4 linked regions of the Homo sapiens genome follow. The protein of the gene in region 4 purifies or fractionates together with the protein of the main gene of each other region. This does not show direct contact. Each region holds a gene or a part of one and is shown on either strand. Other genes may lie near its edges. The genes, in order: TRIP12, KPNA3, GTPBP4 and MECP2.

What was found.
Region 1: the proteins of MECP2 (region 4) and TRIP12 purify together in Homo sapiens (affinity purification with mass spectrometry; 3 studies listed by BioGRID and IntAct, with this or other methods). This does not show direct contact.
Region 2: the proteins of MECP2 (region 4) and KPNA3 purify together in Homo sapiens (affinity purification with mass spectrometry; 4 studies listed by BioGRID and IntAct, with this or other methods). This does not show direct contact.
Region 3: the proteins of MECP2 (region 4) and GTPBP4 purify together in Homo sapiens (affinity purification with mass spectrometry; 4 studies listed by BioGRID and IntAct, with this or other methods). This does not show direct contact.

Annotation. Positions count from the first base shown.
Region 1 is NC_000002.12:229,855,987-229,863,012, forward strand, and holds part of TRIP12 (E3 ubiquitin-protein ligase TRIP12), read right to left. Parts: intron 4,546-7,026; coding exon 4,420-4,545; intron 3,589-4,419; coding exon 2,786-3,588; intron 1-2,785. UniProt on the Homo sapiens protein: E3 ubiquitin-protein ligase involved in ubiquitin fusion degradation (UFD) pathway and regulation of DNA repair.
Region 2 is NC_000013.11:49,705,681-49,712,706, forward strand, and holds part of KPNA3 (importin subunit alpha-4), read right to left. Parts: intron 5,343-7,026; coding exon 5,211-5,342; intron 4,021-5,210; coding exon 3,892-4,020; intron 693-3,891; coding exon 588-692; intron 490-587; coding exon 418-489; intron 104-417; coding exon 1-103. UniProt on the Homo sapiens protein: Functions in nuclear protein import as an adapter protein for nuclear receptor KPNB1. Binds specifically and directly to substrates containing either a simple or bipartite NLS motif.
Region 3 is NC_000010.11:998,421-1,005,446, forward strand, and holds part of GTPBP4 (GTP-binding protein 4), read left to right. Parts: intron 1-582; coding exon 583-675; intron 676-2,256; coding exon 2,257-2,448; intron 2,449-2,527; coding exon 2,528-2,593; intron 2,594-7,026. UniProt on the Homo sapiens protein: Involved in the biogenesis of the 60S ribosomal subunit. Acts as a TP53 repressor, preventing TP53 stabilization and cell cycle arrest.
Region 4 is NC_000023.11:154,031,711-154,038,736, forward strand, and holds part of MECP2 (methyl-CpG-binding protein 2), read right to left. Parts: intron 5,152-7,026; exon of another isoform or gene 2,214-5,151; intron 848-2,213; coding exon 497-847; intron 1-496. UniProt on the Homo sapiens protein: Chromosomal protein that binds to methylated DNA. It can bind specifically to a single methyl-CpG pair. It is not influenced by sequences flanking the methyl-CpGs.

The sequences.
Region 1 (7,026 bases), on a different chromosome or scaffold from region 4:
AACTGCGCCACTACACACACTCCAGCCTGGGTAATACAGCAAGACTCTGTCTCAGAAAAAAAAAAAAAAAAGTGTATCCTAAAGCACCATTTTTTTTAAAAGAATATGTAACTGCATATGTAAAATACCTGGTACTTATTTTATGCTACACAAACGCTGGTTCCATTCTCTTGTTTCAACAGCTTAGGCTACGATGAGAGATCAGAACTGGGATAGTGGCAGTGAAAACGGAAAAGTGATTTAATAGTGACAACAGAACACAGATACTGTGCAAGTGAATGAAATAATGGTGAAATGAGTTTTAAAATACTAAATTAGTTTGTGACTATGTGCTGAGCAGGCTTAATGGAATTATCTGGATTGGTTTTATCAAACCAGCAGCAAAATGACACTGCCAAAACTCTTGGTGTTTCCTGATTGAAACACCAAGGAGAAAATCCCACTGATTAGCCACTGGTAGAGTTGGGTTTTCTTTTAAAAATCAAGTTAACAGACTATATAAAGAAAAGAAAGCTGATCTCTACAAAGGACCAAGGCCATGACACTCAAGTACAATCTGCTATTGCCTGGCCCTAGAACCCTCCTACACATAAGAGATGAGTTCTTCAAGTGAGGCAGACTGGAAGGCAGAAGGGGAAGTGAATCCTAAGCAGCTTGCTGTAAACTCAACCTGGCTCACTGGCTGTGAATATTACATAGCAGGACTGACAGACACAAAACACAGGGAGGAAAGGCAGCATAAAAGCTGACATATGTAACTCCAATTATCAATAAAGCATTGGAAGGACAAATAGTTGGTTGTCCTTTTAACTTGGACCTTTTTTTCCTTCTCACTTCAAGATACTGATCTAGCCTATCTTAATCCTTTAAACTTAAAACATTTTATACAGATGTTCTGCATATTTAAAATACCAAAACAGAACAAAGTTCAATCTAAAAGTAAAATATGTTACTTCACAATAACCTATCATACAGGTTAAACATAAAATTTTTTATATAGTACCTACTATTAATAGTATTGTCATTTCAGGTAATATGTGAATCAACCAAAAGTAGTTTTAGACTGCAGTGTTAAATTAAACAGAGCTAATAGTTCTGATTCAATTTTAAGTTAGGCTGATTCAATATGAGCTATACTTTGACAAGAATGCTAGTAGACACTATATACAATCTTTTTAAACCAAGAAAACATTATAGCCCTACCCAAATGTAGATCTAAAATCCATCAGAGAAGAAAAGATGCTTAAAAGCAAGCTTCCTAATTAGGTATTATAAAATTAAAATGCTTTTAAAAATTGTAGAGATAAGTGCTTTATTATCCTATTTGTCCTTTATAGGTTTCTGAAATAGAAATAAGGAAAGAAGCCTGGGCACAGTGGCTCACACTTATAATCCCAACACTTTGGGAGGCTGGGACAGGTGGATCACTTGTCCCAGTTCAAGACCAGCCTGACCAACATGGTGAAACTCCCTCTCTACTAAAAATACAAAAATTAGCTGGGTGTGATGGCGCACACTTGTAATCTCAGCTACTCAGGAGAGGCTGAGACAGGAGAATTGCTTGAACCCAGGAGGTGGAGGTTGCAGTGAGCCAAGATCGTACCACTCACACCACTACTCCATCCTGGGCAACAGAGTGAGACTCTGTCTCAAAAAAAAAAAAGAAGGGAGGAAAGAAAAGAAAGACACTAGCATTCCCCAGATGAGCAGCTGGTTCCCTGAAGAAGTCTTTTGGTAAAGAGAGAGGGAGAAGAGTTCCTGGATATCTCCAAAACTGACTCATGAAGGAATGCACATAACGCTATGTTTCTTCCATCTACTTTCTGTTTCTTTGCTTGAATGTATTCTCAAAACACAAATTCTTTCTACTCCACTGTAAACTTTTAGAGAGCAATATTCTTACTCACTTAGGACACAGAGTAGTGTATATAAGAGTAGTGAAACATAAGTAGTATTCATCTTTAGACAAAACTCCTTAAAAGACTGTGAGATATTACATATGAAAAAGTTTAATTTACATTGAGGTATATTTATAGTAATAACTTAATTCACTGTATCTACACATCAAGAATATCTCATATAAAAAAATATATTTGGCCAGGCATGGTAGCTCACACCTGTAATCCCCACACTTTGGGAGGCCGAGGTGAGCAGATCACTTGAGGTCAGAAGTTTGAGACCAACGTGGCCAACACAGTGAAACCCCATCTCTACTAAAAACACAAAAATTACCCAGGCATGGTGTGCACACTTGTAATCCCAGTTACTCTGGAGGCCAAGGCAAGAGGATTGCTTAAGCCCAGGAGGCGGAGGTTGCAGTGAGCCGAGACTGCGCCACTGCACTCCAGCCTAGGCGACAGAGTGAGACTCCATCTAAAAAAACATATATATATTTGATCTCTGATCATGGCAACTCATAACTAAAAAGAACTCCTAACTAAATGATAATTTTGTATGTGGTATAGAAGAAAATCCAACTTTATGTCCCATCCTGATATTAGGAAATCAGTGAAGTAGGAGATGCCGCGAGGACCAATAAAGACACAGACACTAAAATGTGATGGTTTCGTAATAATAGGAAGGTAGTATTCCTTACCTGTCTCAACAAAACTAAATGTAGTAGCACTTACTACATGCTGTTATGTACTTAATTACACAGACAGTAATACATCTAAGATTATCTAAGACTGGGGGGAAAAAACCCTTAACTTTAAAGCATAATTGCTTTTGACAAACCAAGAGAAACTTTCTTTAATTAAAGAAAAATACCTTTTTGTAAACTTACTTGCTAATTTGGCCTGTAATCCAGAAGGTCCAGGTTTTGATGTCTCTGACTTAGAAGACCCTGGAAGAGACAGTTTTGTTTTAGGAAGGCTAACTTTAGGGCTGAAACGAGCAGCCCAATCAAATTTTGAAGAGCCACCAGTTTTACTCTGTTCCTTTTCCCTGCTACTTCTTCTGGGGCTGGGACTGGACGCTGAACGGGAACGCCTGGCCTTGTTCTGATCTTTTCCTTGTTTCACTCTGGCACCTGGTGGTACAGTGGAGGAGGCCGAGGCTACAGCAGAAGACGAGGAGGAAGTAGAGGCAGCAGAAGAAGAATCAGTGATGGTGCTACACCCAGCTTTGGCTGAGGTGGCTGATTTTGAAGCCAGCTTGGTAGGTTTCGCAGATCTCTCTTCTGCACCAGTTGATTCAGACCCGGAGCCACTCTTTACACAAGAACTCTCTGTCCTTTTTCTTTTCTGACTCCGTGAACCGCCAGTGGCCCCACTCTTCCTGGTATGAGCCTTGCTTGTTGATGGTGATTGTGCAGATTTCAGTTGTTGCTCCTGGTCTAAATGTCTCTTCTTTGACTTACTATGTGGCTTATTTGTTTCTGAGGGAGATTCAGTATGCTGAAGTGCTTTTGGTTTTTTTGCAGAGCTAGGAGAATTGGTCCTGTTGTAGTCTGGACTAGCACTGCGCTTCACTCCTCGAGAATTGTCTTTCTTAGGCACCTGCCCCGTTTTTTGTCTTTCTGAAGTATTGGCTCTGTCTGGATCCTCTGGTTGTGGAACTATCACAGCAGATGATGAACTGCAGCTTCTAAGAGGTTAGATAAGAAAACAGTTAATATCAGCCTGTCATAATTACAACTGTCATATATAATGCTTTCAAAAAATAAAGTATGAATATGTTCCTACTAAGTCCAGTATTAAACATAGGTTTTCAGAAGGTTCAAATCTGTAAAACGAAATAAAAGAACAAAACAAAAGCAGATGTGACTTTGGATACTAAAATATCTGATTAAAAGATAAGGGTGTTCTTTAGCCCAAAGATTACTGACACTAACACTCGTAATCACAAAACAAGAATTAAGATTACAAGAAAAACAACACTTAATTGTTCGGAACCAGAGGAAGCCAGAATATTGATGCCCTATTCACAAGCACAACTGCTTTGTCAAAGCTTAGAAGAAATAAGCATTAACATACGCACTTTCAAAATGAAGGTTAGAGATTTTTATATTGTAGTACTATCAAATCTTCAAAGTTAACATTGCTTTCCAAAGTCTCTTAACAATTAAATCTTAAGAATCACTGACTTAAACCTAAACTATGGCTCTGACAATAAAAACTAAAAAAAAGATTAAAAAATAAAAAGAAATAAAAAATGGCCATAATGGTTTGTTAAGCAAAGGGGGAATCTTACGGCTCTCCAAACAAAAATATCATTTTATCATTGACAAACTCACTGTCTAGGGTATACTGCACTAATCACTGCAAAGGTGATAAACTGTCAATCCTAAAAGTTACTTAGAGAATAATGAAAATATGTATCAAAACGTTTTGGAATAACCTCAAGTTTTAACATTATGCAATGATTTGAATGCAAATAATTCTGCCTTGAAAATGTATAAGCAACATGAAGATTTACCTTTTAGAAAGGTGTCCCCTTGACAGTTCAGAAGTAGTATTAGACTGCACTTTGGGTGCCTTAGAATTAGATTTTCTACTCTCAGGAGGGCTATATCCCTTATGTTTTGCCTGCCCTAAATGTGACCTGTCAGCAGAAAATCAAAACAGAAATCTATCAGGAAACTGAGATGCAAATACAATACTGAAAATGAAATATTTTTATATATTTCTTAAAGCTTCCCACAATTCATTGTTGACCCTACCCTTTTTCCAAATATTTATAAATTTTAATTATTATTCTACTAAATAATCTGGCAAAAAGAAATTGCCTCTCAGAACCACCCCCGCCCCGCAATACCGAAGAGTTTATTATCACCAGTAGTCATAATTGCACAGCGTTGTTAAGGTTGCTTAAGCAGTAACACATTTTTCAGCAATTTTAGTGCAGATATTCAAATATGCTACATTTTAACAAAAAGCAAATTTAGACTTTAGATCTAAACACACTTTTAATACATAATGTGACTGTAATGGCTTTAAAAGTTTACGGAAAAGACAATTGATGATTCCCACACTGATACCGATTTCCAATTTGTACTTAAAATTCAGGTAAACACAGCAAATGCAGAGACAGACGAACCAATTCTCAAACTGATTTTACACAGAAAATCATTTCAAGCACTAAACAATAAATAAACCTACATGAAATCAACATAGTGATACTTGCTAAAACTTTAAAGTACTTGTCAACAGAAAGAACACAAAAAAGTCCTGGAGAAATATGGAATTTACCACAAAAGTTCCAAAAAACATTCAAATAATTCCATGATTGATATGGTGCATCATATTTACAATAAATCAAATCCTTATGCCAGCACTATTCTAAAAGCAAGTTTGAGGAACATGAAAAAACTGTTTTCAGTTAGATTATTTTTTAGACCTTGGGGAATGGTTACATGAGATTTACATAAGCAATAAAAAACAAACACATGTTGATATCCAGAAAACTGCTGCCATTCGGGTGAGATATTAATGTAACAAATGCAATTTATGTAATTCATAGCTGATATCCACTTTCCACATAAGAGCATATACCAATGAAAATCTAGAAAAAAGTTTCATTAATACCAAATTTACTTGTTAAAAAAAAGTTTAAGGCTTTTATTCCAAACACCATCTCAAAAGAACTTAGAAATGAGTCACTGAAAATCTCACAAAATAATTCTAACTCAATCTGTAAGGATGCCATAAATTTCTTAAGATATCATACAAGTACAACCATCTGTTCCAAAAGAGGACCTAAGGTTTCTCTTTTCTGTATCACTTCTTCTTCCATCTTTCCAGAATTCATGAAAAGAGTCTTAAAAGAAGGTAAGAAATTAGCTTCTTAAGAAAGGAAATAGTTCCTGGATCCCTCATATCATTTTTGTTTTTAAGGTTCTAATCTGAAAGTAATAATATGTTCTAAAGACTTATTAGAATAGATGAATTTCTTAAAAAAAAATAACAAAAAAACAAAACTCTAGGTGAGCCTTTCAAGTGTTATTAGTCTTCACTTTTAGTAATGAAAGGACACATATACTTCAAGAAGCATATTTTCTAAAGTTGTAGCTAAGCTGAACTTTGTAAGATTTTTTATACATTGTGTTTTTGTTGTTGTTGTTGTTATTTTTTATTTTTTGGTGTTTCAGACAGGGTTTTGCTCTATCGCCCAGGCTGGAGTGCAGCGACACTATCTCGGCTCACTGCAACCTCCGCCTCCCAGGATCATGTGATTTTCCTGCCTTGTATATATTGTGATTTAATTTTAATTTTTCCTAGATATTCTCCCATTGCAGACTAAAATTTTGCTTTAACCAATGAGTTTATTAGAGATTTAATTTCTAAGAGTTGCTTTTGTTTTTGTTATATTTCTACTAACAGATCTCAGAGTTCAACTCTTTTTTCTTCAGAAATGAGACTATTTTTCAAATCATTCCATAGTTATTCTAAAAAAGAGGTGTAACGTTCTGTTTTTGGGGTGTGGAATTTAACAGCTACAGGAAATATAAATTATGTCATTCAGGTCCTCTACATTCTTATTTTCTTAAAGATCGTTGCAGACTGATGTTTTAATTAAATCACGTTTTCTACTTTATTTCATTTTAAAATTTAAAATATAGCTTGTTGCATTCCTTGATAATTAAACAACTCATTCTGAAAGAAAACTACATACATTCAAAGCTAGACAACTTTGTGAAAAATAAATGCCCAAAACAATTAAAAATTATGATTCATTCCATTTGTCATCAGAAACCGGCCCATATGAAACTAAAGGTGAGGTCTGGGGCAGCAGCCCTCCTCTTTTTAACTCAAATAAATTGTTCTGTTGACTTTTATATAGCTTATGTTAGATCCACCTAATTCTACTCCTGTGTTATTTCTCATGCCCTTACTAATACCTTCAATGAACTTAAGAACTTAGCATGTAAACTCTCTATATTATACCACAAAAAGTAAACAGTATTCAAATCATTTAGAAAACCAAGGCTCACAAAACTGGCTTAAATTCAGCAATGCCCAGCAGGGCACGGTGGCTCATGCCTGTAATCCCAGCACTTTGGGAGACAGAGGCGGATGTGTCATG
Region 2 (7,026 bases), on a different chromosome or scaffold from region 4:
TGTTTTTTAGACCATCTAGAACCACCTGAACCACTTGAGAATCTTTCACTGACAGTAAATTACAGAACGGTGGTATTACATTCTGCTGTACAAGGTACTCAACCTAGACAACAAAAGAGAAGAAATATTTTTATTTATATAATTATCTATTTCCCAGTAGGGTGTCGTGCTACATGGAAGGCTGAGGCAGGAGGCTATCTTGAGCCCAGGAGTTGGAGGCTGTAGTGCGTTATGGTCATGCCTGTGAATAGCAACTGCACTCTAGCCTGGGCAACATAGTGAGACTCCATCTCTTAAAATAATAATAATTATCTTTTCCCCAAAAAGAACACAATACAGTCAGCAACTACGAAACATAAGAGAGCAGCATGCTTTCCAGTATTAACAATCATGACAGTTACAGGTTTTCAAACTCACCTGATCTTTTCTGCCACTTATTGTTAAGTTGCTGATTGCCCAAGCAGCTTCTTTTTGTGTTCCAAAGTCCCCCTGAAGGTTAAAAATGAGATCATAAAATGGACTCTTTATCCAAAAAGTCTTGGTTATTAACAGATTAACAGACACGGTGAACTCATAATATGACCAACCTTAGCAAGCTGATGAATTATCATAGGAATTAATCCAGCATCTATTACAGCTTGAACTTGTTGCTGGTTGCCTGCTGTTATGTTGGAAAGGAACCACACTGCTTCCTATAATTGAACAAAATATAGGGCACCTTTATTTGAAAAATAATACCTTTAATGTCTTTCTAATATATTTTATATAGACAATAACAAAATCACCTGAATTACGTTAAAGAGACTGCACCTAAAAAGTGATTAGGTATACAAAATCTTCCATTTTAAACAAGTTATAAGGAAATTTCCATTAATTATATTTGGGCTCCAATAACCTGGCATTTATCCATTCATTAATATATAGGCCTACTATAAGCTAGGCATTATTCTAGGAAATGGTGATTTTATAGAAATGAACAAAACAGAAATCTTTATTCATGGAGCTTACATGTCTGTGCATTAGCTTCCTCTAAAAGACAGAAATAAATATACAACTGAATTTCTTTTTTCTTTTCTTTTTTTTTTTGAGACGGAGTCTTGCTCTGTCGCCCAGGTTGGAGTGCAGTGGCGTGATCTCGGCTCACTGCAAGCTCCGCCTCCCGGGTTCACGCCATTCTCCTGCCTCAGTCTCCCGAGTAGCTGGGACTACAGGCACCTGTCACCACGCCCAGCTAATTTTCTTCTATTTTTAGTAGAGACGGGGTTTCACCGTGTTAGCCAGGATGGTCTCGATCTCCTGACCTCGTGATCCACCCGCCTAGGCCTCCCAAAGTGCTGAGATTACAGGCATGAGCCACCGCGCCCAGCCACTATACAACTGAATTTCTAAAACTACTTAAAAACTACTTCTAATAAAGGTGATTTCTTTTTTAATTTTAAAAAATATTTACTCACAAGATATAGTCATTCAAGTATTCCATAAAAATTAACCATCTAACTAGTCTAGCATGGGTCTATATAACATAAATATTCTAAAACTAAGGGATTTATAAGTCATAAACACGTCTGTGAGCTGTTTACAGGTTAGTATCACATGTGTATCTTCCTCTTCCACAAATGAATTTGTTTTGCCATCCAACTGTGGTAAGTTGTTAATAATTGCTGAATCTGTGTTTAGAGTACATGGGTGTTCACTATACTATTCTTGCACATTTTTTGTAGATTTAAAAAGTTTCAAACAGAAATGCTGAGGGAAGAAAATCAAGTTGGTAACTTCTACTTCCAGGGTCCTATGATAGTCTCAAAATGCAAGTAACAAATTTTCAAGGCAAAAAATTTTTGAAGTAACTAATTGCTTGCTGAAGTTGAGATGGCATTTCTATGAAATTTTCCTCTACCCCCCACGATACCCTCACTTAAAAGCATACTACATCACAGGCCGGAACCTTTCTCTGCTGACTTCTGCCCAGCTTCCTCACTTCTCAGTTGTTTCCAATTATGGAATATATTCATTTAGCTAAAAAAAAAAAAATCACCTATATTGTTAAAAATTTCTTTAGTAAAAGTAACTGGCCCAGAGTCTGAAAGTCTCTGGCTTCTTTGTCTTCACTGGAACAAATGTATCTATAAAATGTGTTTTTTGACACCATACTTTTCTATAAGAACCCAACAGTCAAATTATACTCAAGCAACTATACAAATATAGTTATGATGACGAAGAAGAAATGATCAGTTCTGCTGGGTTTGGGTGATGGTAGTATATTAGGCAGATAAAACTTTAGTAAACTAAATGTAAATTTATTTCTTTTTCTTTTTTCCTTTTTTTTTTTTTTTGAGACAGAGTCTTGCTCTGTCGCCCAGGCTGGAGTGCAGTGGCACAAACTTGGCTCACTGCAAACTCCACCTCCTGGGTTCATGCCATTCTCCTGCCTCAGCCTCCTGAGTAGTTGGGACTACAGGCGTCTGCTACCACACCCGGCTAATTTTTTGTAATTTTAGTAGAGACGGGGTTTCACTGTGTTAGCCAGGATGGTCTCAATCTCCTGACCTCGTGATCTGCCCGCCTCGGCCTCCCAAAGTGCTGGGATTACAGGCATGAGCCACCATGCCTGGCCAACTAAACGTAAATTTAAACCACAATGAGACACCACTTCACATCTACTAGGATTGTCAGTAATTTTTTTTAACAGAAAATAAACGTTGGCTAGGATGTGGAGAAATTAGAATTCTAGTAACACTGCTGGTGGGAATGTAAAACAGTGCAGCTGCAATGGAAAACGGTTTGGTGGTTCCTCAAAAAGCTAAACCCAGAATTAACATATGATCGAGCAATTCTACTTGCAGTTATATATCCAAAGAAATTGAAAGCGGGAACTCAAATAGGTATTTGTATGCCAATGTTCACTGCAGCATTCTTCGTAATAGTGAAAAGGTGGAAACAACCGAAGTGTCCATCAACAGAAGAATGTAAAAACAAAATGTGGTGTATACATACAATGGAATATTTATTCAGCCATAGAAAGAATAAAGTTCTGACACATGCTGCAAAATGAATGAACCTTGAAAACATGCTAGATGAAATAAGCCAGGCATGAAGACTTATTACATACTAGTAAGTACATATTACACAATTAATAATAAACTTGTCTATGAAGCTTGAAATCTTAAAAAGAGTAATTTTTTATGATCCTTGAATTTAGGCACCTCGTCTTTGGGTCCAAACTAATTTTGCTGGGAGATCAAAATTTTTATGATCGGTTTGTTTAAAAAAATACCAGCCCATTCAAATGGCAGATTTTGTCTGCACTTTCAAGCGGCTACTAATTTAATGATTGTTGCTATGCTCAGTCTACTTAAATAGAAACACAGGTAGTCTAAAAATGTTTTTTACTCTGTGATGACCAGGGCAGCACCTACCAGAAGCGATTAAAAGTTGAAAAAGGCTGGGCGCGGTGGCTCACGCCTGTAATCTCAGCACTTTGTGGGGCTGAAGCAGGCGGATCACAAGGTCAGGAGTTCGAGACCAGCCTGGCCAATATGGTGAAACCCCATCTCTACTAAAAATACAAAAATTAGCTGGGCGTGGTGGCGGGCACCTGTAGTCCCAGCTTCTCGGGAGGCTGAGGCAGGAGAATCGCTTGAACCCAGGAGGCAGAGGTTGCAGTGAGCCGAGATCGTGCCACTGCACTCCAGCCTAGGCAACAGACAGACTCTGTCTCAAAAAAAAAAAAAAAAAAGTTGAAGAAAAACATTTGCAGAGGTGATTTAAAATAATTCTCATCTTCGCTGCAGTGGCTTTTAAGAAAAACATACAAGTAGCAATAGAAACAAGGAGACAGTTAAAAATGAGACACAGAAAGAAATAGCATAATGAGGACATTATATGCCTTACCTTATTTATCTTCTCTTTTGGGTGTGATAAGAGATTTGGGAAGTGTGACAGGACATCACAATTGAGAACAACCTGGGTCTGCTCGTCGGTGCCAGTCACTATGTTGCCAACTGCTCTGAGGGCTGCTGTCTAGGGTGGGGATAAAATGTTTTCTATAAATTTATTTGCTTATAAGACTAATTCTATATTTTTCATAATCCTGAGAAAAAGTAAAAATGCAAGGCATAAATAACACTTATTTCATCCTTTCACAAAGCACCAAGCAGTCTGAGAGCTATTCTGAATTTTAAATAGTCTCTTGTGAAAAACTGAAACTTTATGAAAAAAAAAAATTGTGTGAAAATTGGTTGGAAAAAGATTCAAAAAATAAAAGGAAATTAAAATTTTAGAAGAAGTCCAGTTTCTTAAGGCTGGGCATGGTGGCTCATGCCTATAATCCCAGCATTTTGGGAGGCCGAGGCGGGGGGGATCACCTGAGGTCAGGAGTTTAAGACCAGCCTGGGCAACATAGTGAAACTCCATCTCTACTAGAAATACAAAAATTAGCTGGTGTGATGGTGCATGCCTGTAATCCCAGCTACTCTGAAGGCTGAGGCAGGAGAATCACTTGAACCTGAGAGGCAGAGGCTGCGGTGAGCAGAGATCGCGCCACCATACTCCAGCTTGGGCGACAGAACAAGACTCCATCTCAAAAATATATATAATATTTTAATAAACGCCTGGAATGGGCACACACTTCCACCTAGAAAGTCACTTTGGTAAAGCAGGATGAACAGATCTAATAAGTGCCTACCCCTAATTAGAGTGGGAGAGAGAAAGAAGAAATGCAATTAGGTTATTGCAATTATTTGGGGGAAAGATAGAGTCTTGAACTAAATCTGTTGTTCTAGATAGATAAGGAGAGACAGATTTGAACCTATATAAGAAGAATTGAAATGATTTTGTAATGGAATGGGAATTGCAAGGAGGAATCAAAATTTCTAGCTTAGGCCATGCTGTTCACTGAAGGTAGACAAGGAAGAAGAGCAGGTTTGTGGGAGATGATCGTTTCATTTCTGTCTAGTTAACCACGGAAAGCTTGAAGGAGTTCTTAGATGATATGTATAAAGGGTCAAGAACAATTGGCTATACAAGTGTGGAACTCAGCAAAGAAACTGGGTGAGATAAAGATTTGGAAATCAACAAAATCAGGCTCAGGGACTAGCAGAAGAAATGTGGAAGATAAGCACTTACAGATAGAATTAAAGCCTAGCTGTACAAGTTAACTGGTTATAGCAAACACAACTGTATACAAATAAGAAAAATTTAAAAATACTTACTTGAACTTTGACTTCCTGATGGCTCAGAAGGGGCACAAGAAAGGGCACAACTCCTGAATCAATAACCATCTGTATCTGTTCATTACCTCCATCTGTCAAGTATGACAGAGCCCAAACAGTGTCTACAAGAATCTACAGGAAACACAAAAGAAAAACCATTTTACATATTTGTTTGAATGCTTTACTTGTTCAACACACCTCAGGAGTAGTGACAGAAAAAGTAACCAAATTTCAAGTTTTAGCTTAGTGGCAAAAATATCTGCTTAGCTGATTAATCTATTAAGTAGAAAGTACCTTATCTTTCTTTCAGTGCCTACCTCAGATCATTCTTCACAGAAAATGAGACACAGAAGTCTGGGAAAACTTCTATTCCAACTTCTGCATTTATGTATCAGACAGATGAATTTAAAAACAGGCAGAAAAGTAATTCTCCCTGCCCTCACAAATTAGCTACCTAATAATCCCACAGAAAAACACTATTTACAAGAATGAGGCCAACACACCATACTGTTTCAAGTTCAGAAGAGAACAGAAAGGTCATCTATTTACTCTACTGGTTTTCCAACATATTTAGCAATACAATTTTTCAGGCTACTAAAGTAAACCAATAAAAGAAATGACTTGGCACTTTAACTTCATCTGGGGAAAAAACTGTTTGAAAATCTCCTGAAATGTGTCCCCAACTGAAGTATAAACCTGGAGTATAAACCATGCCCTAGGCCTATCCTAACTTTGCAACTACATAGAAGAAAACAGGCTTAGCGATCTGGTGATTCATTCAAGGTCAAAGATCTTGTATGTGGCATTGCTTGGTGTCGTCACAGAGGAATATAAGCACTGGTTGTAGCTTATGCAAAATCAAGATGTTTCCTATTAGGTCATCCAAATTGAAGACATCACATCTTTTTGCCCTAAAATAATAGCAGGCACCTGAATTCACATACCCTTCAAAAAAGGATATAGATGAATAAATAAAATAGAACTACACATATAACCCACACCCCTTCAGCATTACTAAGAGTCAGAGAACACTAAAAATTTCCATTATCTGTAAGAGGAGAAAAAATTAAATTCTAGCTTTTGTCTGGACCTCTTGCCTCAAGACTGTGTAAAAGAGAGGACAGAAGCTGGGCCTAAGAGCTGAGCCCACCTACCAGCCCATTTCCCACTCTGGAAGTGAGGAGGCCTCCCTGCTGGAGGTGTCTGCAGATGCTGGGTCTGAGAACAAAGTCTGGCTACTGCCCACCCTGGCAGTAACAGTAACTAGATTTACCTAGAAACAGGGGTCTCAAAGCATAACACCAATATGTGTAGGCTACAATGGAAAATAACCCTTCATACCAAGATCCAGGAAATTCTCAAAAGAGAAAAGACAGTCAACAGATGCCAATATTGAGATGACACACATATTGGAATTATCTGACAAGGACTTGATAAGATTTTAAAGTAACTATCATAAAAATGCACTGGTGAACAATTATGAACACATTTGAAACAAATTTAAAGTGGGAATTCTCAGCAAAAAAACCCGACATGATAGAAGGGGGAAAAAAAAATAAATGAACCCAAAGATACATCAATAGAAATCATCCAAACTGAATAACAGAAAAAAAAAAAGATTAAACAGAAATTAACTCTCAGGAACTTCCAGCACAATAACAATAGATCTAATATTTGTGTCTTCAGAGACCCTACAAGGAAAGGCGGAGCTGAAAAAAATATGAAGAAATATGTTCCAAATTTGGCAAAATAGATAAGTCTAGAATCAGATTAAAAAATGGGAGGTTGAGGCAAGAAGAGAAAATAGAATAAGCTC
Region 3 (7,026 bases), on a different chromosome or scaffold from region 4:
AATAGATTTGTGAGTTTTATTTTGTCTACAGGTTGCTGTGACATGGTGACCAGCAAAGCTCTGCAGGGTCCTTGCTGATTTTTCAAATGCTTGTCAGCTCTGAACCTGCCCTGAGCTCTGAGCCAGTGCTCTGTGGCCGATTTGGTGGCCACTGCACTGGGTGGCTTTTTAAATTGCAGTTTAATTCAGCAAAATGAAAATTTCAACTCCTCAGTCACATGAGCCACATACTGAAAGTTCATTAGCAGTGCATGACTGGTGGCCCGGTTTGGACAGTGCAGACAGAACATGCCTGTCATCATAAAGAGCTCTGCGGGCATTGCAGGCGGTGGGGCAGGACTTGGGAGGGTGAGGGGAGGTGGTGGCTGTCCTCCAAATGCCAGCCCTCACGCTGTCCTAGTACCCCAGTCCTTGGCCTGGTGGTGCAAAGGGAGAGGTACCAGGCTCCTATTCGATGCAGTTTTATCGTGTGAGGTTTCTTCTATGGTTATTTCCTACCCAAAATCAGTCTTGTTAAAACACACAGATCCCACGTGTACACAGAGGAAATGAGGTGATTCTGAAAGTTCTCACTTGTTCCAGGTGACGAGAGCAGACGTGGATGTCCAGCCCTATGCGTTCACAACCAAGTCTCTGTTTGTTGGGCACATGGATTATAAGTATCTACGTTGGCAGGTGAGAGTCTTGTCTTTATTTTTATTCATTTATTTATTTTGAGTTGGAGTTTCACTCTTGTTGCCCAGGCTGGAGTGCAGTGGCATGATCTCAGTCCACTGCAACCTTCACCTCCCAGGTTCAAGTGATTCTCCTGCCTCAGCCTTTCGAGTAGCAGGGATTACAGGTGCACACCACCACGACCGGCCAATTTTTGTGTTTTTTTAGTAGAGAGGGGGTTTCACCATGTTGGCCAGGCTGGTCTTGAACTCCTGACTTCAGGTGATCTGCCCGCCTTGGCCTCCCAAAGTGCTAGGATTACAGGTGTGAGTCACACTGCACCTGGCAAGAGTCTTGTCTTTAAACAGAACAAATATCTTGGTTTATCAAGAACTTGAAATTTCTCCATCATCATAAAGAAAACTCATCTGAGCTCTTGGGATGCATAAGAACAGGTCGCATGTCTCTGATATAATTCAGGGGAGGCAGCCAGCTGCCAGTGTGGATTTCTGCATTTTCTTAACATAAAATGAAATTATCTTTGTGTCATTTCTAACTCTGTTATCAGAAATGGCATATATACAGTTTAAAAGCGTGAAGCAGGCTGGGCACAGTGATTCACGCCTGTAATCCCAACACTTTGGGAGGCCAAGGCAGGCAGCTAACCTGAGGTCAGAAGTTCGAGATTGGCCTGGCCAACATGGCGAAACCCCATCTCTACTAAAAATACAAAAATTAGCTGGACGTGGTGGTGGGTGCCTGTAATCCCAGCTACTTGGAAGGCTGAGGCTGGAGAATCGCTTGAACCCAGAAGACAGGGGTTGCAGTGAGCCGAGATTGTGCCATTGCACTCCAGCCTGGGCGACAGGAGCGAAACTCTGTCTCAAAAAAAATAAATAAATACAAAGCAAGAAGCAATGTTTCCACACTCTAATTTTGTAAATTGTGAAGAAAGTAATTCCTAAGACATGGGAGGGTTCTCAGTTATCCCAGTTTTTGTGTTTTATGATGTCGCTGGTAAAAAGAGGAGTCATTTCTCTCAACATCATGGCTAGCATTTCTTTGAGCTCTACAGGGTTCCTCCTCCCTTTTTTGATGTTTAAATAGTATGTACTTTTCTGTCACTGGTTTATTTTGTGGTATTCAGTTTGGGAGACCTACTTTTTTTTTTTTTTTTTTTTTTTTGAGATGGAGTCTCTGTCACCCAGGCTGGAGTGCAGTGTCGCTATCTTGGCTCACTGCAAGCTCCGCCTCCCTGGTTCACGCCATTCTCCTACCTCAGCCTCCCGAGTAGCTGGGACTACAGGTGCCCGCCACCACGCCCAGCTAATTTTTTGTACTTTTAGTAGAGATGGGGTTTTGCCGTGTGAGCCAGGATGGTCTCGATCTCCTGACCTCGTGATCCACCCGCCTCGGCCTCCCAGAGTGCTGGGATTACAGGTGTGAGCCACCGCACCCAGCCCTACTTTTTTTTTTTTTTAACTACAATTCTGCTGTAAGATTATTAGGTCTGGTTGGGTGTGTGTGAGTGACTTCTGGGATGTGCTGGACAAGAAGCTTGTGGGTGAGTGTGCTTTCAGTGACAAGGTCTGGCTGTGTTAGGTTGTAGACACTCCTGGGATCCTGGACCACCCTCTGGAGGATAGGAACACCATCGAGATGCAGGCCATCACTGCCCTGGCCCACCTCCGTGCTGCGGTCCTGTATGTGATGGATTTGTCTGAGCAGTGTGGGCATGGGCTGAGGGAGCAGCTAGAACTCTTCCAGAACATCAGACCTCTCTTCATCAACAAGGTGTGTGTGGTCACTCATGTTTTGCTTCATATCCTGCAGTACGAGAATAATGATTTCATTATTTTTCTTCCTTGCCTAGCCTCTCATAGTTGTAGCCAACAAATGTGATGTGAAGAGAATAGCTGAACTTTCTGAAGATGATCAGGTAAATCACGTTAATATTTTGAATATTTCTTACTTACCAATTCTGAATTCTCATCTCAGACAACCAAAGTTTAGATGAAGGAATTTTAGCAATACTAGTCCACAATTGTATTTTATAGTTGAGATAATATCCTCAGTGGTTTAGTGAAAAGACATAATAAAAACTTAGTTATTGGCAAACTAAAACGAAAACATAAGTTTCTGGATTCTTTGTTCTTGAGTGTGTGGAAGCATCTGTATTTGATGGGTTGGACTTTTGGAAAATGTGATTACTTAGGAGAGAACTGTTGGAGAAGGGTGCTCACAGGTGTTACTTCATAAAACAGGTTCTGTGATTAAATGAGTTTGGAGACTAATGATTGAGTGAAGGAGAAGGAGGATCTTGGAATTTGGGCTTTCTGGATCTGGATCTATGAGTGAGACGTGCCTGCTAGCTTTCTCCAAGAGGCAGGCAGTATTGTTGGACATAATTTTTCAAACTGATTGAATCCTACAACCTTTTTAATAGGCATCCTTCATGATAAATGCTTTTAGAAGCGTGCACTGGTGGAGTGGCTTTCAAATTGTGGTCCTGGCCCAGCAATGTCAGCATCACCTTCTTAATTTCTTCCTTAATTTCCTCATTGATCCATTGGTCATTCTGGGACATGTTTATAATTCTCATGGGTGGTTTTTTTTTTTTTTTTTACAGTTTTGAAAGTATCTCTTGGTATTGATTTCTAGTTTTATTCCACTGTGGTCTGAAAAGATACTTGGCAATTTTTAAAAATTGATGAGATTTGTTTTGTGGCCTAACATATGGTCTATCCTGGAGAATGTTTCATGGACTGAGGAGAGGAATGTGTTTTATGCAGCGGTTGGATGACATGTTCTGTAGATGTTTGGTCTACAGTGCACTTTTTTTTTTATTTTATTTTTGTTTTTTTTTTGAGATGGAGTCTCGCTCTGTCACTGAGGCTGGAGTGCAGTGGCACGGTCTCGGCTCAGTGCAGCCTCCACCTCTGAGGTTCAAGTGATTCTCCTGCCTCAGCCTCCTGAGTAGCTGGGATTACAGGCGTGCGCCACCACACCGAGCTAATTTTTTGTATTTTTAGTAGAGAGGGTTTTACCATACCGGCCAGGCTGGTCTTGAATTTATGACCTCAAGTGATCCGCCCACCTTGGCCTCCCAGAGTGTTGGGATTATAGGCGTGAGCCACTGCGCCTGGCCTACAGTGCACTTTAAATCCAGTATTTGTTGATTCTTTTTTGCCTAGGATCTGTCTAATGTTGCGAGTCTGATGTTGATGTCCCCAAATATTATTGACCCCTTTTATTATTATATAATGACCTTCTTGTCTCTTTTTATTGTTTTTGACTTAAAATCTGCTTTATCTGATAGAAGTATAGCTATTCCTACTTGCTTTTAGTTTCCATCTGCGTAGAATATCTTTTTGCATCTCTTCATTTTCAGTCTATGTGTGTCTTAATGTCTTTACAGGTTAAGTGAATTTCTTGGATACTTTTTCATGTTTTCATGATAGTGATTATTGTCTTCGCTTCCAGATGTAGGACTTTCTTAAGTATATCTTGTAAGGCTGGTCTAGTAGTGACGAATTCTCTGTTTTTGCTTTTCTCGGAAAGAATTTATTTCTCCCTTATTTCTGAAGGATAGCTTTGCTGGATGTAATATAGTTGGCTGGCAGTCTTCTTTTTTTTCTTCAACACTTTGAATATATATCATCCCATTGTCTCCTGGCGTGCAAGGTTTCTGCAAAGAAATCTGCTGTTAGTCTAATGGGGATTTTCTTATATGTGACTTCAAGCTTTTCTCTAGCTGTTTTTAGAATTTCCTTTATATTTGACTTTTGACAGTTTGACTATAATGTGCCTTGGGGAAGACCTTTCTGGGCTGACTCTATTTGGGAATTCTTGAACTTCCTGGTTTTAGATGTCTATACCTCTCCCCAGTCTTGGAAAGTTTTCAGCTATCTCATTAAATAGGTTACTAAGCCTTTTCCCTTCTCTTCTCCTTCTTGAACTCCCATAATGCCAGCATGTATTCACTTAATGTTGTCCCATAAATCTTATAGGCTTCCTTCATTCTTTTTCGTTCTTCCTGCTTTTTTTCTCTCTGACTAGGTAGTTTCAAATGACAGAGATTTTTTTTCTGCTTCATCCAGTGTGCTGTTAAAACTGTCTATTGTATTATCTCATCCATTGAATTCTTCAGCTACAGGATTTCTGTTTGACTCTTTTTTACAATTTCTGTCTCAGTTTAAGTTCTTGTTCATATCATGAAATTGTTTTCTTGATTTTGTTGAATTATCTATCTGTATTTTGTTTCTCATTGAGTTTCCTTCAAAAAAATTATTATTTTGAATTCTCTTTCTGGCAATTCATTGATTTCCTTTTCATTAGAGTCTGTTCCTAGAGAGTTAATATTCCTTTCATGATTTCTTATTTCCTTGCTTTTTCATGTTTCTTGTGTCCCTGCATTGATGTCTCTGCATCTGGTAGAACAGGAGCCTCTTTTATACTTTCTTCTAGAGTGGCTTTCATGGAGAGGTTTTCACCTCACTTGGGTTTTACTGTGCCATTTGGGAAGAGAACCGTGACTTTCTGGATAGGAGCAGTGACATTGTTTCTGTGCAGCTTCCTCACCTCCATGAAATGTTGGCAATAACTGGGTGGCTCAGTGGCCTCAGCTCTGGAAGTTTGTGCCAGCGGTGGTGTATGTTTTTAAGGTCCTTGGTGTCAGGGGCTTTTGGGGTCCTGCTATTCTTGTTTTTCCCGCAATGGGGGACTTATCTGAGGGGATCTTTCTTGGTGTCAGGTCTGACATGGTCTGCAAGCAGCTGCCACAGTGCTGGGTTTCAGCTACAGGTACTCAGGGTAGCTGTGGGACTGGGGTCCTAGCCTTAGGGTCTTGTGTGCCTATCATGGCCTGGCCTTGGGGTGCAGGTTTACTCTCTGTGGTGGATCTCTGATCCTGAAGCACCCCTAGCAGCTTAAGCCCACAGGGCAAGGCTGTGGCTGTGGCTCCACCCGTGGGGTCAGGGCACAGTCCTGGCCTGACTCCAGGGAAGACGCACTCTGGAGGTTTGAGCCTGGGAAGCAGGGTAGAGCTGTACTTCAGAAACCTGAGCCAGTAGGGAGGGCTTAGTGTCAGCTCAAGGGGAACTCTGGACCCTGGGATGGTGGGGCCCAGCAGTATCCCAGACTCTCTGATGCTAGGTGAGGTGGCAGCAAGGACCCCAGAATGGACTAGTCCAGCTGTCATTTGGGCCCTAGAGGACAGGGAGGAGGACAGCAGTGACTCCATTTCCTGGAAAGAGTGGTGACTCTGCAGCTCAGAATATAGGGTTAGTCCAGCTCCAGGGAGCAGGTGCTGGAGCTGTTTGCGTGGTGGGGCAGGTGCCTCGGCTCAGCCCCTGCCCTGTTTCCCTGGGGTGTGGAGTACAATGTCAGCTCCTCCCCATGGTATGTGGCTGGTCAGCCTGGGCCTGAGGGTTGTGACTCTTCTGGGCGCCCCAGGCACCGTTGCCCTGGGATACAAGGTACCTCTTCAGCATAGACGCTGGGATATGTGACCATTCTGGGCATTTCCCAGGAAGCAGGGCACTGCTTCAGCTCAGGCAGCAGGGAGACAACGTTCCCTGAGAGGCCACGGTGCTATTTACCAGGAGGCAGGGTACCGTTGGGTGCTAGAGCAAGGGCTAGTAGAGGGGCTCCACCTCCACCAAGCCCTGCTGGGAAGGGGTAGCAGCTGCTCACAGCTGGCTTGGGGATGTTGGGCCACCAGGTTTGGGTAGTTTGGAGGCAGTTTAGCCTCAGGGATGAAGGGGAGCTGTGGCCACTTCCCCTGAGCAAGACATACTCCAGCCGCAGTTCCAGTCCCAAGATGATGGAGTATAGCCGCCCCATGGGCCCAACAGACAGGGCCCAGTGTCAGCTCCTTCTGTGTGGGAGCACAGCTGTGAGGATGCCAGGGGGCTCCGGTGGTGAGGGCTGTGGGTGTCCAGAGTGGTGGCAGGGCTGCTGCCATCCTCTTGCTTACCCCCTCACCGTAGGGAGAACCTCCTCCTGGGTCCCGTTGCATCCCAGCTGTAGGGTGGGTTGCTGGCGGCCCAGTGTGTTTTTTTTGGTTTGTTTGTTTGTTTGTTTGTTTTAAGACGGAGTCTCGCTCTGTCCCCCAGGCTGGAGTGCAGTGGCGTGATCTCTGCTCAATGCAAGCTCCACCTCCCAGGTTCACACCATTCTCCTGCCTCAGCCTCCCGAGTAGCTGGGACTACAGGCGGCCGCCACCACGCCTGGCTAATTTTTTATATTTTTAGCAGAGACAGGGTTTCACCATGTTAGCCAGGGTGACCTTGACCTCCTGACCTCATGATCCACCCGCCTCGGCCTCCCAAAGGCTGGGATTACAGGCATGAGCCACCGCGCCTGGCCCCT
Region 4 (7,026 bases):
TCTGCTGGTTGGTGCCTGGGCCTGAGTCACCATCTAGAACATTCCCAAGTTTGAACTCAGGTACGGTGCTCAGTCTCTCCAGGAATCAGTTTCAACAAGATAATCCTTTGCTCACCCTTCTCATGGAATTAAATGAGGCTGTCTGCAAATGTCATTTGAAAACTGCTAACCTTTTTGGGATCATTTAAAAGGCAGAACTGAAACATGCTTCTTCACCCCTCTGAACCCCTAGCTCTGCAAGTTCCTCTGCTTCCGCAGCTATTCCATCCCCAGATAAAGACTTGAGGTGTGGAGAGGATAGAGGGCCTGCTACCTTGAGAACTTCCCACTCAGGGCAGCGACCTCTGTACACGGTCATTTCAAGCACACCTGGTCTCAGTGTTCATTGTTTATGTTCCCCCCGACCCCACCCTGGGCACATACATTTTCCTGCTCCATGAGGGATCCTTGTCCCTGCCCTCCCTGCCCTGTAGAGATAGGAGTTGCTCTTACTTACTTGATCAAATACACATCATACTTCCCAGCAGAGCGGCCAGATTTCCTTTGCTTAAGCTTCCGTGTCCAGCCTTCAGGCAGGGTGGGGTCATCATACATGGGTCCCCGGTCACGGATGATGGAGCGCCGCTGTTTGGGGGAGGCAGAAGCTTCCGGCACAGCCGGGGCGGAGCCTGACCCTTCTGATGTCTCTGCTTTGCCTGCCTCTGCGGGCTCAGCAGAGTGGTGGGCTGATGGCTGCACGGGCTCATGCTTGCCCTCTTTCTCTTCTTTCTTATCTTTCTTCACCTTTTTAAACTTGAGGGGTTTGTCCTTGAGGCCCTGGAGGTCCTGGTCTTCTGACTTTTCTTCCCTGAAGTGTTAAACAAGTATGTAAGTATCACAGAGAACATGCCAGTCTGCAGAACAAGTGAGCAGAGGCAGGCTTGGACCCCCACCACATGCAAGGCCCCAGGCCATCATACACTCAGATCTTGATGTCCTTCCCCAGGACAACAGAGACTCGGGCCAAGCTGGGACCCAAATATTTCTTTAGGAATTTGGGCTGTGGGTGGTGCTGGCCGGTGTGCCTGACCTGCACTGTGGCCACCCACAAGTCTCCTAGCACTGCAGGAGAATCAGAGCCCTTTCCTCTGAGCGGAAACACTGCGGCTCCTGAGCATACCACCCCAGCATGAGTCGCACTTCAAGGGACTCTGGGCTCGATGGCTGACAAGAGGCCGTCGACTGCTGGAAAGGGAGCCAAATGGGGGAGGGGTCTCCTTTGTGAAGGCCGGGCCTTGGGTGTGTTTTTGGTTTTCTAGAATGAGGCTCAATGAGGCACACAGTACAGTGTCATGGAAAGCACACACAGGTTTGGAGCCAGCCAACCTGCACTGAAATCCTTTGCCGCTTTCCAAACATGAACCCAGCAAATGACCTCAGCATTCTGTGCTTCAGTTTCCTTATCTTGACAACAGGTAACCCCATCTAGGCATCCTTACTGTGAGCATCACAGGAGAAAAGGCACAATGGCACTATATAAATATCAGCTAACTCAGGCCACAGGAAACTACCGCCTAGGGTCCTGGGGGTGATAAGACAAGTGGTCCCAGGTGGCGTGAGCCTCTAACACATGTTCCCTGATGAGGAATGGCCTCGGCCACAGCAGATGCGGAGGGAAGAGCAAGGAAAAAGGTGTGGTCCAGGCAGAGCCATACATCCCCTTCCTGCCGGTGGAGAAGAGCACCCTACCTATTCTAGTGTGGGAGGCTTCCCCGTTCTTTTCTGGTGACCGAAGCAGCTCCTTCTCTACACATCACTTTGGCCCGGTGGGGTCTCGTCAGAAATGGCCACCGTGAGGCCCCACACCCCAGCATCACTATCTGGCCATGATGCTCTAGTACTCTGTCGAGTATGCCACCGTGAAACCTCCTAGGACTCCAGAGCCTCTGCAACAACAGGGGCAGCTTGGAAAGAAGCAGCAGCCACCTGCGAGTCCCTTCGTTAGCAGTTCATTCTGGAAAAGAGCATGACTACTCCCACCCTCCGTGTTCTCAGCCCCACAACTCCCCTGTCCCATGTGGTTCACATCAGTGCTAGTCACCGCCTTGCGGCTGGTCTACCCCAAGAGACTTCCCCTCTTGTCTACACTGCACAGACTGTGCAATGAGGGCACCATGGCACTCACTGGCAAGCATCCTTAGGAAACCAGAACTCAAATGATGTAGGGAAGTTACCAAAGGCTGCTTAGTGCTGGGACTCAGAAGCTGCAAGGACGTATCTCTCCAGAACCATCAGGTCAGGTGTAGGGAGGCAAGAGATGTTCCAATCTAGTGACAAGGTCTTAGAGTGAGGGAATGTCTTGTCCCCACCATGACTCACCCCTGAGTTCCTCCCTATCCTGTATCTTCCTCCAGAAGTTTAGGGCCCAGAGTGTGGCTGCCAGAGTCACCTAGAGCCACTGCATACACAAAGGCATCCTACAACCCACAGAGCAGTCTTTCTTGCTGTAAAGAGGGGTCCCTAATCTGTCCCAGCACAGAGCTCGCCTTGTTTTGTTTTTTGTTTTTTTTTTGAGATGGAGTCTCGCTCTGTTGCCGATGGCATAATATCGGCTCATCGCAACCTCCGCCTGCCGGGTTCAAGTTATTCTCCTGCCTCAGCCTCCGGAGTAGCTGGGATCACAGGCGTGTGCTACCACGCCAGGCTAATTTTTGTATGTTTAGTGGAGACGGGGTTTCACCATGTTGGGCAGGCTGGTCTCGAACTCCTGACCTCAGGTGATCGACCCGCCTCAGCCTCCCAAAGTGCTGGGATTACAGGCGTGAGCCACCGTGCCCAGCCAGAGCTTCCTTTTCATGTCTCTGAGTCTTACAGCTCTCAATGGGAAATGACGAAGAACCCTGGAAAGCTAGGTGTGGCCTGTTGCCCACCAGAGATCAGCCTTTGAGAATGGACCCCTAGGCAGCTCCCCAGCTCCCCATAAAGGAGGGAGGGAAGGGGAGCCACCAGCAGAGTGGGCCAAGAAAGCAGACAGATGGGAATCGCTACTTCTACACAATCCATCATGGCACTGCCTAACGCCAGGGCTGCTCCCTAGAACCCGGACGGTCCTAATGTCAGAGAAAAACAGTGAACTAATGGGAAAGATCTGGCTTCTTCGAAACTCTCATTTGCATTTCCCAAATACCTTAATCACCATGAGGTCAAACTATAAACCTAAACGTGACGTAAGGAATGCCTTCTAGAAATCTATGCTAAAGAGACACCTCCAGAAATCTCAAAGAACATATGCATGATGTTATTTGCTACAACATTATTTTTACCAGCCAAAGGCTTCCAATACCCCCGATCCCTATCACCAGGGCACTTGCTGAATAAACTTATGGTGCGCCCACACACTGGAGTACTGTGCAGATCCAAAGGGACTAAACAAGAGCTCTAAGAACTGCGATGGAGTCATTTCCAGGATCCACTGTGAAGCAAAGGGAGCAAAGCGCAAACATATCTACTGCATTCTACCAAAGAAAGAAGGGGGGGTATTAAGGAAGGACACACCAGGAACTAATGAAATTGATTCCCTGCATGGGGTAGGGGGAAAAAGGTAAGGGTACAGGCACAGGAGTGAGGCCTAGCTGAACATGCCTCAGTGTAATTCTGACTTCTGAATCATGTAAATGTTTATATTACCCAAAATAAAATTCAAACTAAAAGTAACAAAACCTTATTACACTTAATGCAAATAAAAACAAATGAGTTCGGGCCAGGCATGGTGGCTTCAGCCTACGATCCCAGCACTTTGGGAGGCCGAGGCGGGTCGATCACCTGAGGTCAGGAGTATGAGGCTGCAGTGAGCCATGACTACATCACTGCACTCCAGCCTGAGTGACAGAGCAAGACCCTGTCTCTCTCTCTCTCTTTTTTTTTTTTTGAGACAGAGTCTTGCTAGAGTGCCATGGCGTGATCTTGGCTCACTGCAACCTCCGACTCCTGAGTTCAAGCCTTCTCCTGCCTCAGCTTCCCGAGTAGCTGGGATTACAGGTACCTGCCATCACGCCCGGCTAATTTTTGTATTTTTAGCAGAGACGGGGTTTCACCATGCTGGCCAGGTTGGTCTTGAATTCCTGACCTCAGGCGATCCACCCACCTTGGCTTCCCAAAGTGCCGGGATTACAGGCATGAGACACCACGCCTGGCCAAGACCCTGTCTCTTAAAAAAAAAAAAAAAGAAAAGAAAAAAGAAAAGAAACAAATTTAATTCTATATCAAATTGACAATATACCACAGAGAAAAGATTTATTTCAAATGACTTTTGACTACAGTGCTCTGCAAACCTGTAGTGGGACATATTCTAAGGCCAACAATAACACTCCAGGGGCAGTAAACACACTAGATTGGCTCCCAGGAGAGATATGTGATTCTGCTTCTGGGGCATCTTGTGCCAGAAAGCCCGGGGAGTGCAAGAGAAAAACAGGGAGGGCCCATGAGAGGCCTCTAGCAGTGGTCCAGGTGTGGCCCAGGGTGGGGGCAGTTGAGGATTTGGGGCTGGTCTAGGTGGTGAAGCAACAGAGCTCGCAGGTGGATTAGTGTGGGGGTGAGGGGCAAGGGTGAGTCAGGGACCATGTCCAAAGCCTGGGAAGATGGTGGTGCCACTGATTGAGAAGGAAAAGACTGAGGGGCCGGCTGGGTGCAGTGGCTCTCACCTGTAATCCCAGCACTGTGGGAGGCTGAGGCAGGTGGATCACCTGAGGTCTGGAGTTCGAGCCCAACCTGGCCAACATGGTGAAACTCCGTCTCTACTAAAAATACAAAAATGAGCCGGGCGTGGTGGCAGGTGCCTGTAAGTCCCAGCTACATGGAAGGCTGAGGGAGAAGAATCGCCTGAACCCAGGAGGCAGAGGTCGCAGTGAGCTGAGATCGCAAGACTCCGTCTCAAAAAAACAAAAACAAAAACAAAACCACTGGAGCGGCAGGGGAGCAACACCCACAGAGACAGTTATACCATCAAGGAGAGAAAACAGTTCTTCAGCTACTCGCTAGAAAGGGGGGAAACCCCGCTGTGATCAGATTCTGAGTTGGGCCTGAATGAAAATGAACTGTCTGCTTGGGGTTTTAAAGGCTTTTTATTGTGGTAAAATATACAAAACAGGTCAGGTGTGGTGGCTTACACTTGTAATCCCAGCACTTTGGGAGGTGAGGCAGGTGGATCGCTTGAGCTCAGGAGTTTGAGACCAGCCTGGGCAACATAGCAAAACCCTGTCTCTACAAAAAAAAAAAAAAAAAAAAAAAATTAGCTGGGCATGGTGGTGTGTGCCTGTAATCCTAGCTACTCGGGAGGCTGAGGCAGGAGGATCACTTGAGCCTAGGAAGTTGAGGCTGCAGTGAGCCGTTGATCATGCCACTGCACTCCTGCCTGGGCGAACAAACCAGACACATATATGTCTCAAAAAAAAATACATATATATATATATATATATATATATATATATATATATATATACACACACACACAAAACAAAGTTTACCTTTTTAACTATTTCTAAGTGTACAATGAATGAACTTTTTTTTTTTTTTTTTTGAGACGGAGTCTTGCTCTGTCACCCATGCTGGGGTGTGGTGGCGCAATCTCGGCTTACTGCATACAGGCTCTGCCTCCCTCCTGAGTTCAAGCGATTCTCCTGCCTCAGCCTCCCGAGTAGCTGAGATTACAGATGCGCACCACCACGCCCAGCTAATTTTTGTATTTTTAGTAGAGATGGGGTTTCGCCATGTTGGCCAGGCTGGTCTTGAACTCCTGACCTCAGGTGATCCACCCACCTGGGCCTCTCAAAGTGCTGGGATTATAGGTGTGAGCCACCATGCCTGGCCCTAAATGAACTTTTAAGAGCACTGAAGATGGGAAATAAAGGGTCTTTAACTCTACTGTAATATTCTAGTTCTTTCTAATGGAAATTACTTGAAGCAAATATAGTATGATGATTTTCAATTCTGTGCAATGAAAGGCACATGGGTGTTTGTTAATTTGCTGGCTGCTACTTTTATAATTAAAGACAAATTTCAAAAAACCCACAAAGAAGCCTGGATTGTGCTGGGTGTGGAGTGCAGGTAAAAATGATAAAAAACGTGGATGGAGCTGGAGTCCATTGTCTTCAGTGACACAGCTCAGACACAGAAAGTCAAATACCGTACGTTCTCACTTAGAAGCAGGAGCTGAATAGCATGTGCACATGGACAGAGTGAGGAATGGCAGACACTGGAGAGACTGGGAAGGGTGGGAGGGGGTGAGGGATGAGACATTACTTAACGGGTACAATGTCCACTATTCAGGTGATGGTTACACTGAAAGCTCAGACTTCACTACTATACAATATATCCACGCAACAAAACTGCACTTGTACCCTTTAAATTTAACAAATAAAAAACAATGATAGAAAACAGGTATTCCAAATGAGTTTACCCTTAGCCCAGAGGGCCTGCCCAGTCCCAGGGTGACCTGGGCATTTGCACACCCTCACTAAGCCTTCACTGCAGGACCCAAGGGAGGGAGGCTGGGCTAGGGTGCCAGGTGACTCCCCAAGGCTGTCCCCCAGGGGGTTTATGGTGTTTGCCGAAACACAAACTTTTTCAAAGAAACCTGCCAGGTGTGGTGGCTCATGCCTATAATCCCAGCACTTTGGGAGGCCGAGGCAGGTGGATCACCTGAGGTCAGGAGTTCGAGACCAGCCTGGCCAACATGGCGAAAACCCCATCTCTATTAAAAATACAAAAATTAGCTGGGCATGGTGGTGCATGCCTGTAATCCCAGTTACTCAGGAGGCTGAGGCAGGAGAATCACTTGAACCCAGGAGGCAGAGGTTGCAGTGAACCGAAATCGTGCCACTGCACTCCAGCCTGGGTGACAGAGTGAGACTCCATCTCAAAAACAAACAAACAAACAGAAAACAAAACAAAAAAAACCCCATACACCTCTCTTCATCCTCCCTCTAATCAGAACCCCCCACACACACACAATCTTGATTATGAGGAGAACTAAATAGCTAGTTCACAAGT